2 separate regions of the Homo sapiens genome follow, and region 1 is linked to region 2. The links come from fine-mapping of genetic effects on gene expression. A gene starts in region 2. The other region holds a variant in brackets. All regions are shown on one strand. Distances are between the middles of the regions.

Evidence for each region. PIP is the estimated chance that this variant, and not a neighbour inherited with it, causes the effect.
Region 1: its variant is the best candidate, but not a certain one, in a credible set for the expression of MFAP3 in whole blood (INTERVAL, PIP 0.72).

Annotation. Positions count from the first base shown.
Region 1 is chr5:154,055,064-154,063,350 of GRCh38, forward strand. MFAP3 (microfibril associated protein 3) reads left to right here. Exons shown (of 3, transcript NM_005927.5): 3 at 1-2,387. Among named protein-coding and RNA genes, the nearest start is that of MFAP3, 20 kb to the left of the region's middle. RefSeq lists an enhancer at 3,661-3,710. The variant G/A (reference allele first, on the strand shown) is at 4,418.
Region 2 is chr5:154,034,343-154,042,686 of GRCh38, forward strand. It overlaps MFAP3 (microfibril associated protein 3), which reads left to right and starts at 4,625. Exons shown (of 3, transcript NM_005927.5): 1 at 4,625-4,669. FAM114A2 (family with sequence similarity 114 member A2) reads right to left here and starts at 4,568. Exons shown (of 14, transcript NM_018691.4): 1 at 4,515-4,568; 2 at 402-625; 3 at 1-35. The coding sequence starts at 611.

The DNA.
Region 1 (8,287 bases), 21 kb after region 2:
GAATTGTAAATACTCTTCAGAACAATTTCTTCAGCTACAGGAAGCGTGGTGCCATATAATTTTAAGAACTTGGCAGTGGAGCTCCATTTGGGGCTTCACGTTTCTTCATATGACTTCTGATTATTGAAGCATTACTTCAGCTAGAGGCTCCTGAGGGAAATGTTCAGAGGAGGTTTTATCAGGATTTTAATTTAAGGTTTCAAACAGGGGAAGACAGGAAATTCAAAGCGTGACGGGATAAAACTCATGCCTCCCTTTGTCCAGGCTTATCAGAAGTAATACATCTGCTCTGAATAGCATGAATGAATCAATGTGCAGTTTTATCAGATGGCATCATGGATAAAGATGATAATGCTGCCTTTTCTGTCTCTCAGGCTGTTTCCATGGAAACCTCTAGAGCCAAATAAAAGCTAACCAATCATTTAGCCAAAGCTTGCCTTGGCTCATAGACTGGTATTTCTTTAAGGAAAATTGTTTTTATATATTTGACTATAAGAGCAAAGGCTCTTGAACATATCCTAGATTATGGAACACTTTTTCCCTTCCCTTTTCTCTGGAAAAATTAAATTTTTTTTCTGTCCACTGAGACTGGAGTGCAGTGGCAAGATCATAGCTCACTGCAGCCTCCAACTCCTGGGGTCAAGCGATCGTCCTGCTTCAGCCTCCCAAGCAGCTAGGACTACAGGTGTGCACCACCTTTCCTGGCTAATTTTTTTTTATTTTTTGTAGAGATGGGGGTCTCACTTTGTTGCCCAGGCTGACCTTGTACTTGTGGCTTCAAATGATCCTCCTGCCTTACCTCCCAAAGTGTTGAGATTACAGGCATGAGCCACTGTGCCTGGCCAAAAAACATTTTAAATCCCTTGTCTGGGGGTCAGTCCTCTAAACATCCCTCAGATTTCAGATAGTACTTTCAACCCTGTCCTAACATAGCAGGTTTGCAGTAATCTTTTAGAATATAGCTTGTCAAATTAGAGAATGGTTTTACCCCACATGTTCTCATAGGAGACATTATTATTTAGAACCCTAAGGTAGACATGTTTAAAATCAAAGTCCTAAGAAACAGAACTTTGGAAAAATGGAGGAAATGTTTTTAAAGTCTGTAAGTTTGCACGATACTGTATAGTAACTAAATGCATGCTACTCCGTTGTATCCTAGTTATTTTAGAAACAGAGGTGGCCTAATTTGGTGGCCAAAGTAACTGGTTTACTTTGAGTGTACCAGCTTATGGTGCCATTGATGAGGAATTAAAGTAGGTCAAAATTTAATTGGAGTTGGTATTACTTCGTAAAGCTAGTTTTCAAGAGGAAGAAAACCACACTTACTAATGTTTTCTGTATCTAATCAAATACTCTTCATATATAATTAAGCCTCATGTTATCTTTTTTTTAAATCAACCTTTTGAACTTCAACTACAGTCTAAAAGTCTTGATGGTAACTATAGTGTAATTATCTTTTTGTCTCACTGGATTTTATAGTTAGTGGAAAATGCCTTTACAAAATGTATTTAAAATAGCTGTCATCTCATTTGTAAATTTTGTCGTGTATTGTGATATAGTGAACCTTATTGTCCTTATGAAATGGTAGCTTTGTGAAATACATTCACCAAAAATCAAAATTTGAACATCTTTATGATTCCTTACCAGCTGAAGCCAGATAGACAGGTATTAATTGAGCTGATGCCCCACTTGAGTTTATAGACTGTTTGATAACTGCCTGTCCTCCAAATTGTGTATGTATATGTTACGATGGTTTAATTCTTGAGTCAGGGCCAGCACGCATTTATATTTTCTACCAATTACCTTGATAGAAATATCTTAGAAATTGCTGACCTGGAACGGTTGTGAGAAGACTCCTGGCTTCTTTCTTGCCTCACTTAACAAATATTTTAAGGTCAAAGCAATATCTGTGCACGGCTTTCCTTTTGCTCCTCCAGACAAGTGAGGCTGTTGGTATAGTCCTCTTCACCCTCTGCATGTAGCTTCACCCTAGATCAGACTTTTGTCTCTTGGGTCCCAGATGGCACAGGAGCACTGCATGCTTGTTTTCTAGAGCCCAGCCAGTCATGGGTGCTAGCCTAGTCTCCACACACCAGCAAGTAGAACCCAAGTGTATTGTATAAATATTTCCTGAGTACCAGTAAGAGAATGCATTCTTTTCTCATCTAGGCCAGGAATGTTGAAAATGCTCAGCCTTACATAGAAACTCCTAGATTTTCACTAACGCATTTCACAAAAGTAAATAAGTATTTCATATAATTCAGAGGATGTTTAAATTGTCAGCATTTTAATAAATACTTGCATTATAATTTTGTCTCTTTTTTAAAGAAAGTCATACTTGAATATAATTTATTAAACGTTCAATGGAGTATATAGTCTATTTGAAATTTTCTATAGTGTATGTTTCATTTGTATGTTTGACGAAATTTGTATGTTTGATGGAACTTGACGTTAATGATTTTAAATGGGTAATTTTTTGGGGAGAGGGTAGTCTCACTCTGTCGCCCAGGCCAGAGTATGATGGCATGATCATGGCTCACTGCAGTCTCAACCTGGGCTCAGCAGTTCTGCCTCAGCCTCCTGAGTAGCTAGGATTATAGGTGCACGCTAACGCACGTGGCTAATTTTATGTGTGTGTGTGTGTGTAGAGATGGGTCTCGTTATGTTGCCCAGACTGGTTTCTATCTCCTGATCTCAAGTAATCCTCCTGCCTGGACCTCCCGAAATGCTGGGATTACAATCATGAGCCACAGCCCCCAGCATAGGAGTAAATTTGAATTCAACTTGGATTCTAGTGTGGCTGGAATCCACTTTAACTTTACAAATATTTACACCTAAGCACTGTGTATGTTTTCAGTGCTATGAGCTACACTGAGATGGGTATCCTGCCCACAACGGGCCTGCAGATACCAGACTATCCTCCCTGGGCCCAAATACAGCAGTTTACTCTTCTGAAGTAAAGCATTTTTGGCAAAGGCAAGAGCTTGAGAAAAAGAGATGAGAAGATTTGGTACATTTTTAAAGAGCTTGTGATTATAGTGTGTAGTTTATGGTGAGATTTGGCGGGCAGGAGGTTTAGCTCTGGTAGAAGCAAAAGTCTGCAGTCCCATCAGGGTGAAGAGTGGTGATGGTTAACAGGCATGGAAAAGCACAAGGTGTTAGGAGAACGCAAAGGCAACAGATGGGAGGTGTGACTCATTACTTAAATGCCACAGACTCCTTAGAATGAAAATCTAGCCTTTATATCCCTATGGCAAAAGATTGCTGGACTTTAAATCCTGATTTCACCCCTAGCCTTGTAACCATGGACAAGGGCTTCAGCCTTTCTCGGCTTCAGTAAAATAGAATTGATAATGCCTACCTCACAGAATTAACACAAGGATTAAATATAGCAACCGATAAGCAAACACTGATAGCTCTGATCTACCACACTGTAAGGGGCTAGTCATGAGCCGGCGTCAGCTTTGTTAGTAGCCTTGTCCAACTGATGACTATATTTGCATTTGTGGTCAACTAAAAATTCCTCCACACCTCTGAGAATTGCATTTGGCTGCATGCCATAGAAACCTGATCGTGGTGGCTTATCATAATAGCTAAGAGATTTATTTTTCTCAAATCCAGAGATAGGCAGTCCAAGGCTGGTGCAGGGGCTTAAGAACTGGCATCAGGGACTCGGCTCTTTCTAGACTGCTCTCTATCCTTAGCATGTGGCTTTCATCCTCAAGGTCACAAGATGTCTTAGTTTGGGTTCCCCCAGAAGGAGCTCCTGAGAAACGGATTCACATGCAAATAGTTTATTTGGGAAGTGATCCCAGGAAGGTAGGGAAATGGGGAAGTGAGACAGGCAAAGTAAGAAAGCCTACACAGGATGTGTTAATGAGTGGGTTACTGCTGTGGGCAACCAGTGTTCAGTCCCGCTGGGGACCTCAGGGAGCTCTCTCTGCCCCAGGTGTATGTAGCTCATGCCTCAGTTGTCCCACCTCAAGGCCAAAGAGCTGGGATATTTATCCACCAACTACCATCTGTCATTAGTTAAAGGCTGCTCCCAGGGTCACTAACCCCCACTTTCAGACTGCATTCTACAGGCTCAGCATGATTCTGTAGCTAGCAAAAGGCCTCGGGTAGAGAAAAGGAGTTTTCAACAGGAAGCCTGTGGTAAATAGAATGGTGACTGTCAACGAATAATGGGCAGAGCACTGACAGCACCTGCTACATAGGACGACTGTTTTACCTCCAGTATCGTGTCTGCATTCCAGACAGGGAGAAGGGTAGAAGGTCAAAGGACAAAGGACACAGCAGCTGAGTTTGTACCTTTTTATCGAGAAAGTGATAGCTTTCCCGAAGCCTCAACCAACTTCTGCTATGCAGCGGCCAGAACTAGGAGACATGGCTACCTGCTGTAACTAAGAAAGCTTGC[G/A]GAGAGGAGCGTGTTTATTTTTAACTGGACACATTGTCCCAAAGTTTGGGCTTCTGTAATTAAGAAAGGAGGAAAAATGGAGGTTGTGGGTAACAAGCAGTGTGTGACAAGGTCAGCTTCACATGAATGACAGGAGCAAAACGTGGTTCTGTGGTGGATAAAATTGCAAACCATGTTCCTTGAAGATGATCACATACATGAACAAAACAAGAATCAGAAGCAGTAAGTGCTAGGCTAAATCTTCAAGTCATCATTTCTGTTGTCTCCAGTACACGTAGCTCAAACCGCAGACAGGTTATCAGATTCTGCTGGGGCATAGTTGGCTTTTCTTAACCTATTTATTCATGAACAGGTATTTGCTGACACCTGCTATGTGCCAAGTGTTCTTCCATGAGCCAGGGACTCCACAGTGACAGAGTGACTGGCAGTGTATATCTATTCACTGGGGTCAGAAAACCCCCTTCGAAAAGGGCATTGTGCTGAGACCCAAATTATGAGGACCCAGACATTCAAAAGTTAGGAGGGGTACTCCAGGCAGAGGAAAGAGCAATGGCAAGGTCGGCCTTTTGGAGGAACAGAAGAAGTAGGCCAGTGTGTCTAGTGAAGGGAGACAGTCACAGAAGCAGGCAGGGGGGCAAAAATATGGTAAGAAGATTTCAAAGCTCCTTTTGGCTGGCCCCAGAAATACATTTCTTAGAAGAAATGCTAGAAGTACCTAATTTGGAACAGAAGATTTACATATTTGGTGGGGAAAGTTTGATCATTCAAAGAGTACTCTTAGTTTTTATTCCTAAAGTCATCTGCAGCTAAAAAAAAAAAAAAAGAAAAAAGAAAAAAAAAATTTGCGCTGATTCCCTTTTTCTTCTTCTTCTTTTTTTTTTTTTTTTTTTCTTTTTCTTTTTTTGAGATGGAGTCTCACTCTGTCGCCCAGACTGGAGTGCAATGGTGCGATCTCAGCTCTCTGCAACCTCCACCTCCCCAGTTCAAGCAATTCTCCTGCCTGTAGCTGGGACTACAGGTGCATACCATCACACCCAGCTAATTTTTGTATTTTTAGCAGAGACAGGGTTTCAACGTGTCGGCCAGGCTGGTCTTGAACTCCAGACCTCCAGTGATCCGCCCACCTCTGCCTCCCAAAGTGCTGGGATTATAGGTATGAGCTACTGCACCTGGCCCTAATTTTCTTTAAGGAATTAAACTCCTTCAGAGTCCCTTAAATTCCAATCATTCTCTTGAGTTTTCATGTTTTTGCTGGAACCTATTGATTAGGAAATATATATATGTAAATACACATATGTCACTCCATCTGCCTAGAGGATCCAAGGCTGCTGCCAGCATGCTTATTCTTCCTGACAGTTGGGAACACTCTGCTTTGCCTCCAACTCAGCTATGCCATAGGGAGGACTCGAGTGTCCTAAGTGATGATAAATCAGCCTTTAAGGGGCCTCATTCAGATAGAAGAGCCACCCTCTGGGAAGTAGTTTGTCCGTAAGCAGAAGGGAGTTCATCAGAAGACACTCCCGCTCATGTAGCAGTTTTTCATTGTGGATTTCAGTCTTCTTTCAGAAGCTGTAAGCACACAATTGGACCATTCCTGAGGCCACTGTTCTAAAGCCCCTTCGTCCTTTGAACACCTAAGCTCACATGTATTCATTTAATTTTTAGCAGTTGTTTGTTGCACCCAAACTGGGAACACTAACTGCAAGCACAACTAAACATGGTCTCTGCTCTTTGGGGACTTACATCCTATGGGAAAGCAGATCCAATTCACATAGTGACATGGAGTGTATAGTTTAAAACTGAGCAGTGTGCTAAAGGAAACGATTCTATAGGCGCCTAGAACAAAAGAGCCTCATCTAGGTCAAAGAAGAATTCCCTGAAGAGGTGATACTTAACGCAACAGGGATTATTTGAGGGCTTATGTTCCTAGCCATGAGCCCGATCTATGGATTTAAGTCAGATCCTGCCTAGAATGAATTTACAGACCAGTTGAGAAAATAAGATGTTCCTGTCATAAACCATCTGAAAGAGTCAGTGTATCAAGTGCTAAATGGATTAGTGCTGGAAAATAAATGCAAGAGGACTTAAAGATGAAAAGAGTATGTGAGCAGAGAATGGGCAATGCTTTGTGGACTAGGTGAGATTTGAGCTAGACATGGAAGGATGAATTAGTCATGGATGCAGAAGGAAAGGTGTTAATCTGATCATGGAAATCAGAAATCTTCAATGTTGCCCTGTTCTCTAAGCAGGAAAAATATAATTCTTTGGCCCTCCAAGATCTGTTCTCATCCTATCTTACCAAATTTATCTTTTGAAGATCCTCCCCAGTCCCTTGCAAATACCTTAACGTATTCTACATTTTCCATTAGAATTGTCTTCTCCTTAACAATTTTTTAGCAACTTGACAAGATGGCATCATATATTAGTCATCTATTTTTGTAGATTCTGTATCTTAGGGCACCTTTCATATAGAAAAGACAATGTTTGCTGCATTTAATGGAACGGAAGGAGTGAACTTGTTCTGTGGTCTATGACTATGTCCATCAGTTGATGTGAGAATTAAGAATGAAGGCTTGGGAGGTATGGCCACCACTTCTCCATAGCATTCTTCCTTGGTGGCATTACCTAATTCCAAAGTTTTAAATGCCATCCTCACACTGATGACTCCCAAAGGTATATTGCAGCTCCAAATGTAGCCTTTCAGACTTGTAGATCTAATCCCTTCCTACTTGACATCTCCACTTGGCCAGACATCTCTCATGGCATCTCAAAATTAATATATCAAATATAGAATTCCTTATTCCTTTCCCTTATAATAAAAAATACACCAGTTTCACCCCTGCCGTCTTCTCTCAGTAAATGACACCATCATCTCATATGCTCAAGCAAAAGCATCATCTTTGACTCTATTTGCTTTACTCTCCACATCTGTTATGTCGACAAGTCCTACTGTCTCACTTCAAAAAACATATGCAATCCATCCACTGCTCCCTACCTCCACTGATACCATCCTAGCCCAAGACCCTGCCATCTCTCACATGTACTATTTGATGGTCCTTACTGAGCTTCCTGCTTCCACTTTTGTCCCCAGGTCATCCATTCCCTACACTGCCACTGGAATGAATTGTGAAAGTAATAAATTATGTCATGTCACCCTCTGCCTATACGCCACAGTATTTATCCTCACTGAAAAAAAATTCAGAAGAAAATCCATCCTCCTTGCCATGGCCTACAGGATGCTAATATGAACTGGTTCTCTCCTATGGGTCCAAACTCATTGCCCACCACTCTCCACCTCACCCATTATATCCCAGCCACCCTGGCCTCCTTGCTGTTCCTCTAACACACACACCAAGTCTGCTCCCACCTTAAAACCTTTTTCAGGGCTGGGCACAGTGGCTTACGCCTGAAATCCCAGCACTTTGGGAGGCCAAGGCGGGAGGATCACGAGGTCAAGAGATCTAGACCATCCTGGCCAACATGAAACGGTTGTGAAACATGACAGGGTGAAACCCCGTCTCTACTAAAAATACAAAAATTAGCTGGGCGTGGTGGCACGCACCTGTAGTCCCAGCTACTCAGGAGGCTGAGGCAGGAGAATTGCCTGAACCCGGGAGGCGGAGGTTGCAGTGAGCTGAGATGGCGCCACTGCACTCCAGCCTGGAGACAGCAAGACTCCATCTCAAAAAAAAACAAAAAAACAAAAAAAAAAACCACCTTTTTCATGCTGCCCCTCTGCCTAGAATGATCTACCCCAGATGTTCCCTTGACTGGTTTATGAGCATTCAGAATTCAGATTTCAGCTTAGTTATCACCATTAGACGCCTCCCTGACCATACTAAAGTAGGTGTTCCTAGGTTGGGGTTAGGA
Region 2 (8,344 bases):
CATCTGGTCTGGGGTACATCTTTGGAAACATTATCCTAATTTCCCAGTAGGCAGAAAAACAAAAGGCAAAGAAAAATGAAAAAATTAGAGGAAAATCAGAATGTACAGACAAGGTATCTAATTATTAGCCAAAAGCATGGGTGAACAAATACATATTATTTAGCTAAAGAAATGTATTGCTTGACTGGCAGATATATGCTATCAGCATGTAAGTACCACATAGCAAAAGCAATTATTCATAAAGGCATTTATAGAACTGAAAAGACTGTATTTTAGGGTTGTAAAGAGAAAGAAATAAGAGCAATTCTAAATTGGTATTTATGCCAAATTTCTTTTAGCCCCAACATTTTTTAATCCTAATATTTTAATAGATACCCTACTTTTTCTGTGGTCTGTGATACCTGAATAGGGAGAACTTTTGAAGTCTCAAGGTCACTGGAAGGTTTGGTCTCTGGTCTTTTCCGAGTGGAAACTACAGGTTCTGATTTACTCTCTGGTTTGGCACCTTGGTCAACAGACTCAGAATTCTTGGCTGGCTCACAGTTTCCATCTTCAAGGATGGGGGCTGCTTCAGTTAGCAGTGGAGTCTCAATATCATCTTTATCTGACATGATTAGAACATCAGCTGGTAAAATGAAAGCCCAAAAAAAATTTATATAGGCTTCTTTGGTATAAAGTATTTGTTTAAACTTTTTAGTTTGAGATTATCATAGATTCACATACAAGTATAAGGAATAATACAGAGATCCCATATACCTTCATCCAGTTTCCCCCAATGGTAAAACTTACACAAATATAATATCACAACCAGGAAACTGATATCAATGCAATCCACTGATCTCATTCAGACTTTATCAGTTTTAAACGCACTCATTTGTATTTAGTTCTATAAAATTTTATCGCATGTATACCTTTGTGTGACTATCACCACAATCAAGATACAGAACAGTTCAATCACAAGGATCCCTTGTGCTATCCTTTTTTAGCCATAACCACTTCCGACACTCCTTCCAACCCAAAGCAATTACTGATCTCTCTGATGGACAGGTGTCCTCCATCTCTGTAATTCTGTCATTTCAAGATGTTATATAAATGAAATCATACAGCATATTACCTATTGACATTGACTTTTTTCACTCAGCATAAGCCCCTCAAGATCCATTTAAGTTGTATTAGTATTCCTTCCTTTTTATTTCTGAGTAGTATTCCATAGTATAGATGTATCACAATTTACCCATTTATCCATCGAAGGATATCTGTATTGTTTCCAGTTTGGGACTATTATAAATAAAACAGCTATGAAAGTTCATGTATAGGTTTTTGGGGGAACATAAGCTATCATTTCTCTGGGGTAAATGACCAAGAGTGCAACTGCTGGGTCATATGGTTAAGTTCATGTTTAGTTTTATGAGAAACTGCCATACTCTTTTCCAGACTAGCTACACCATTTTACATTTCCACCAGCAATGTATGACTGATAAGTTTTTCTGCATTCTTGCCAGCATTTGACATTGTCCCTATTTTTTATTTGAGCCATTCTGACAGTTGTGTGGTGATATCTCATTGTGGATTTAAGTTGTACTTCTCTAAGACCTAATAAGGTTGAACATCTTTTCATGTGCCTATATGCCATCTGTATATCCTTGTCAGTGAAATATCTTTGTATCTTTTGCCCATTTTCTAATGAGATTTTTTTTTTACTGTTGAGTTTTGAGAGCTCTTCATATATTCTGTATAATATGTGGTTTGCAAATATTTTTTTCCAGTATGTAGCTTATCTTTTAATTGTCTTCATTGGGCCTTTCAGAGCAAGTCTTTAATTTTAATGAGGTATAATTTATCAATTTTTCCTTTTACTTATTGTCCTTAAAAATCTTACTAGTTATTAATCATTCCTACCTCAATTTTTCCAGGACATCATGAAATTTAAGCCATCAGATTGGCTTTATGTCAGATCAACTTTTGAATACCAGTGTTACTCAATTCAATTCCTTCCAGATGTAGAGCTCTTTGGCAATTAAAGCCAAGATACTATTGGTGTCTCTACAAAGAACAGACACTAGTTTCCAGGATAACCAAGGATTATCAGAGTAGAAATCAATACATCTCACACATATGTACACACACGCTGTAGGTATGTACTGATATGTACTAAGTGCAGAATTAGACCCAACCCATGCTATCAAAATGTTTCTAATGTATTAGAAAAGAAAGGCATATTAAAACTAAGGCAGACTGGATGCAGCACTATAACAGGTGCTGCATTCAGTCCAACACACAAAATGCTGAAACATCCCTGCCAGACCATCCAACACACAAAATGCTGAAAAAAAACAGAACTCCATTAGAATCAGACAACGTAATTCATGAACAAAGTACCTGAAATAAGCCTAGAGTAGTGGTCACAAACTGGGAATTTAAGTGCCAAATCCAGCCTACAGATGTTTTTATTTGGCCTGCACAGTATTTAACCTTTGCAAAAACTAGATGCCAACATTTAAAAATCAGACTTCATATAAAAATATAGGCTTCCAACTTCTAACTTGTAAAATTAAAAGATCTAGCAACACCGGGCCCACATTCAACTCTGTAATAACTAGCTTGTGCTAAATAGCCGCTGGGCCCTTTTAGCTAGGGCAGTTGCTCTCCAGCTCCCTACAATCCCCCACGCAAATCCACTTCACTCAAATTATGCTACCTGATTAACCTCTGTAGGCATCTGAGTTGGCAACACCTGCCTTAAAAGAAGCTTATGATTTTGACAGATGATGATGCCAATGACAGGATTCAAGGATATGGAAATAACATGAGGGTACAGCCAAAGGCCTGAGGTCTGACAGTATGGAACATGGACAGTTACAGTAGGGAGTAGTTACCATGGCAGAGAGAAGAACAATGGGAAGGCATGAAGCTAGAAAGGTAGATTAAGACAACACTATGGAGTTCAGAATATATGGGCATATAATATAAACACATTACACATTTCCAAAACACATAGAGAAAAAATCCAGATACAACTACTCACTGACATACAAACCAACTTAGAAGTAGCCATTCATTCACTCGCAAACATTTTTTGAGTACCTACTACGTACCAAGTAGTACCACAGTACCTGTGGAGATAGAGAACTAATGTAAGCCATTCACTCCAAGGGCCTATCTAATAGGAAAGACGAGACAGTTTTTGCACAAAGTTCAATTAATGTTTTGTGTATATGAATAAATGTTTCCTATCTTTTCCTTATGCTCTCTCCAGGTTGCAACGCATCATTATCATCATCATAAATATATACAGTATACTATATGTAGAATATATAATATACATATTACATAAATTCATATAATTCCATGAAAGACTGGAAGGACATACTCCAAAATATATTTTTAAAGACAGGGTCTCGCTATGTTGGCCAGGTTGGTCTTGAACCCTAGGCCTGGCCTCAAGCAATCTTCCCCTGCCTCAGCCTCCCAAAGTGCTAAAATTACAGGCGTGAGCCACCATGCCCTGCCAAAACAGTCCCTTTACTAAAATATTAAACACTGGTTATCTCTATTCTTTCATTTGTGCCAGATATTTGAGCTAAGCCAGAAGAGAATTTTTTATGGTGATGGTTGTTTATATTATCATTACTATCGTTATTAGAATGACTGTACCATCTCTTTCCTCAACTCATTCATAATCTAGGAGAAAGGTTAAAAAAAAAAAAGGAATAAACACCAAGTACGTGGAACTGCACTATTTAGTGTTTTTGTAAGTCTTCCAGGCATTGTGTAGTAAGCGTGTAGAAATAATTGTAGTTTCTCCTCCAGTTATTTTCTCAGTTGGAGGAGAAAGATTCCAATAACTGTAAATAAATACGGCTGAGCCATATTTTTAAGAAATAAAAACGCATACGCTTACACACACACATATATATTACGTATATATACACTCCACCCGCCCCATTTACCAAAATGAAGAGCAGTACAGCTTAGTAGCTAAGAGCACGGGCTCTGGAGTTTACTTTCTTCCTGTCCTGCAGCGATTGTGGGGAAGTCAGGTCACCTGTCTGCCTCTCCGTTTCCTCATCTGTCAAATGGAGTTCTGGGTCCCTATAAAGATTCAGTGACGCGATATGTGAGGGGCTTGGAACAGTGACCGGCACGTAACCGCCCACAGGTTAACAGCTGCTATCACTTGGTGGGGTGATGGTTTGTATCCTATCGTTATTAATACGGCTGTCTCTAGATGAGCAAACATGCGCTCTCACTTCTTCCCACATTCAAGAATGGGGTCCCAAACGAGAGATTCGACGTAAACGTCCGCTCCCAACTAAGTTCTCAGGCGCTGACAACGACAAGAATTCCTCACACAAACGTAGCGCTTCAATCACTAAACCGCTTTCACAGCCCTCGACCCTGCCGCGAGATGTCCGCCGCCCACCGTCAGGTCACCGCCTCCCTAACGACTTCGGCTGCCCGGGCCCTGCCCCTGAACCTCGCACCCCTCCTGCCTCGTTCAGGAAGCTCCGCACCTATCCGGCCGCCACCCTCAGCACAGCCACGGCAGCCGACTCGGCGTTCCTACTGCCCCGGAAGTGCTCCTTCAGCGCAGAGGCGTGCCGGTGTGTCCGAGAAAACTTCCGAGTTAAGCCGCCGCTGAGGCCGGAAGGAGCTAGACGGCGGTCGGGTAGGTGACGGCTTGGTTGGGGTCGCTGCGAGGGGACTACTAGGAGCGCCGAGGCGTGAGTCGTAGCCTGTGGCTTGGGGTCGGGAGTGCAGGAGGCGAAAATGTTTGCCATTCTTTTGAAAGTCTGGCCTGGGTGTGGGAGTTCGGTCATCGAACACTTACTGAGAGCCAGATACCTGCCAGGCACTGCCCTGGGCTCCAGGGACACATCAGTCAACGAACGGAAGGGCCCTGCTCTCAAGCAGTGCGAAAAGCAGATTATAAACAAGTCAACAAACGGGATTATCTAAGGTGGTAGTAAGTGCTGTAAAGAAATTTAGACTGGATAATGTGATGGAACGAAGTGGGAGAGTAATAAGCCGTATGAAAATCTGGAATAGAGCATTCCAGGCAGAGAGAATAGCGCGTGCAAAGGCCATATAGTGGGAACAAACTTAGCAAAGTCAAGGAAAAGACAAAGGCCACTGGCTAGAGCAAAAGGAGCAAGGTGAGAATGGAGAGAGATGAGGCCAGGGACTTGAGCCCAAATCTTGTAAGGCTTATGAGCAAGGATAAAGAGTTTGATTTTTGTTTGGAATCCAGTGGAAAACCATTGAAGGTTTCTAAGCAGATGAATGACATGATCTGATTTATGACTCTAAGATTACTCCTGGGACCTCATCAGAAAGATGCAACTCTTCTGTTGCCCTCGAGCAGTGAAAATGCATGAAATCCAGACTGACAGAGCTAGTAAAATATTAAAATCAATCTTATTGTACAGATAAGAAAAACTGAATCCCAGAGAGGTGAAGGGACTTAGCCTTTAAGAACTCATGTTTTCCAACTCCATTTAATGCCCTCGGAATTATCATCTTAATTCCCAGATAAGAGTAATTGTCACTTCTAAAACTCTTCAGATATTTTCCTTTGCTTTTGACAGTGGTTCTCTAAATTTAGGTTCATCAATATCACCTGGAAGCTTGTTAAAATTCCAAAAAACAACAACAAAAAAACCCCTGCTTAAATATAAAATGGATCATTTCCTCTGATTTTCTGTTGTAATGGAAAATGCATAGAATTTGGGGCTAAAGTATGGAATCTTGGGAAGCCACTTATTTTTTAAATGCTGCTGATAATTATAGCAGCAGTTCTCAAACTTTTTGATCTTAGAATTTCTTTATACTTTTAAAATGTATTGAGAACTTCAAAGGGTTTTTGTTTATAATAGCTATCAATATTTACTATTTTAGAAAACAACTTTCAACAAAGGTTATTCATTTTAAAATAAACTCATTATATGTTAACATAGATAGCATTTCTGTAAAGGATATTTTCCAAAATGAAAAATTATTGAGAATGGCATTGTTTTACATTGTTACAAATCTCTTTAATGTCTGGCTGAATAAAAGACAGCTAGATTTTCGTAACTTCTACCTTCATTCTCTTACAATATCAATCATCATGTAACTTTTAGAAAATTGTGCCATATTGTGTGAGAATGTGAGTGAAAAAGGGATATGTCCTAATATTATGTAAATTGTTTTGAAACAGTGTCAGGGACACCCAGGAGTTCCTGCACCACACTTTTGAGAATTACACTGAATTACGGTGATTGTCATGCCAGTAAAAGAAATATGAGTTTGATTTGTAAATCAATAAACCTATATGCACATTAAAAATGCAGATGCCCAGGCATCCCCTAGAGATCCCAATTCAATAAGTCTGTGGGGTCAAGAAATCTGCATCTTTAACAAGCACCACAAATTAATTTGATATAAATGGTCTGAAAATTACAGAGTGAGAAAACCAGTCAAATGATTCTCTAGAGTGTTCTGCCTACTAAAACTCAAGATAGGTGTCTTTCTTATCTTCACCTCTCTCCATCAATAGTTTCCAGAGCCTGAAGCTCTGGAAAGTTAATAAGTTTGTAGCAGACACCTTTCACACTACCAAGTCGATGAGTGTCTGAACTCAAAATTTTGAGCACTTGCCACAGGCAGTGGCCCTGTGCTAAGGACAGAAGGTTTTTAGACTCTATCATTCATAAGCTTACAGTCTTTTGAACGGATAACTAACTGCTAAGAGGAAAACTGATAAGTCTTATAATGGCGTACTCTTAATGTGCTAGGGGACTGACAGAGCAAAAAAAAAAAAAACTCATCTGACAAGAGGGTGGGCATGAGAGGGTTTCCTGAATAAGATGAAATTAGAGTTGAATATTATAGAGAGGGTACAGTTTCCCCCAGAAAGATATTGACGGGAAGGGGCAGAAAGATTTTTAAGCAAAAGGAACAACTAGTAAGGTGAAAAGTTATTTAGAGAGAATAAAGTAAAACAAGCGTAGTTTAGGCTTTCAGCCATGGCAGGAAAGCTGGGTAGATTATAGGATTTAAGCAAAGAAACGAATGATAATGATAATCAGCCTCTAGGTGAGGAAACTAAAACCACTGGAGCACATCATAGCTAATTTGTGATAGAGGTAAAACTAAAGACCAGACTTAATGTTTAAATCCATTCATTCCTCCTGCAAGCAATTATCGTACATAGAGGCACCTCTGGGCTTCTCATGACTTTCTGTTCTGCTGCCTGAATCTATTCTTGGAGAATTACAATGCCAAATTGGAATTTTAAGCTTATCTCATGGGCAGTGAGAAATCACCAGTAGATTGTAAAATTACCCTGAATTGCTCAGATTTGTGTTTAGGACCAATTCTGAGTGTCACAGTGTTTGGATACATCATAGAGGTAAAAGGAGTTAAGGAGATCCATTCTGAAATTAAGGGGATAGTGTGGTATACCCAGGTGAGATAAAAGGATATGAGTTAGGACAGAGACAACAGGACTTAATTGAAAAATGTGTAGGAGGTGGAATAATAACAATAGCATATATTTATAATTTACCCACATTAGTTCATCTTATCCTCAAAACTACCCTATGATGCAGTTACTGTTAATATTATTTTATTTAATAAATGTGAAAACTAAGGCCTTGCAAGCCTATGGCTTCACCCAGGGGTAGGATCAGGCACCTTAACTCTAGAGCCCATTCTCCTAACCACTGAGCCATGATTGTCTTACAATTTTGATACTGCAAAACTGGAAGAATTGTCTGGCTATTATCTAAGCTGTTCATAAGCTGAACAAGTAGATCTGAGGGTAAGAGGAGTTCTGTTTTAACTAGACTGAGTTTCAAATAGAGATGTTTCAGACTATAGAGGGGGAAAAATGGCCTGGGAAGATCATAAATCTAAGCCTGTTTCATTGATGTTTTTGTCATTTGCATCCAGTAGCTATTCAGCAAATATACCTATGGCAAAAAGGATATAAGTTATGGGTATAACTGAAATAATCCTGGGTTTAAAGCAAAGCTCTGATAAATACAGACGATGTTTCTCCAGGTGCCAGAAGATATGTTGAAGTTTGAGCTCAGACTGACCAAATGCTAGTTATGGGGTATGTGATAGCTCCAAGGTAGTAATATAAAGGCTATTTTAATTAGAAACTTTTGAGTAAATGGCCCTCAGGATAGTGATTTCTGTTTGAATGTCACTAACCTTTTTTAGTTACAGATCCCTATAATAATGCTTGAGTCTAGGCAGAACAACTTTGTGTTTATTCTTTGCAAAGGGTAGGGTAGTGCTAACAACCTGCTCTTCATTTGCTTTTTCTCCCCTTTGCCGATTCAGAATGCTGCTT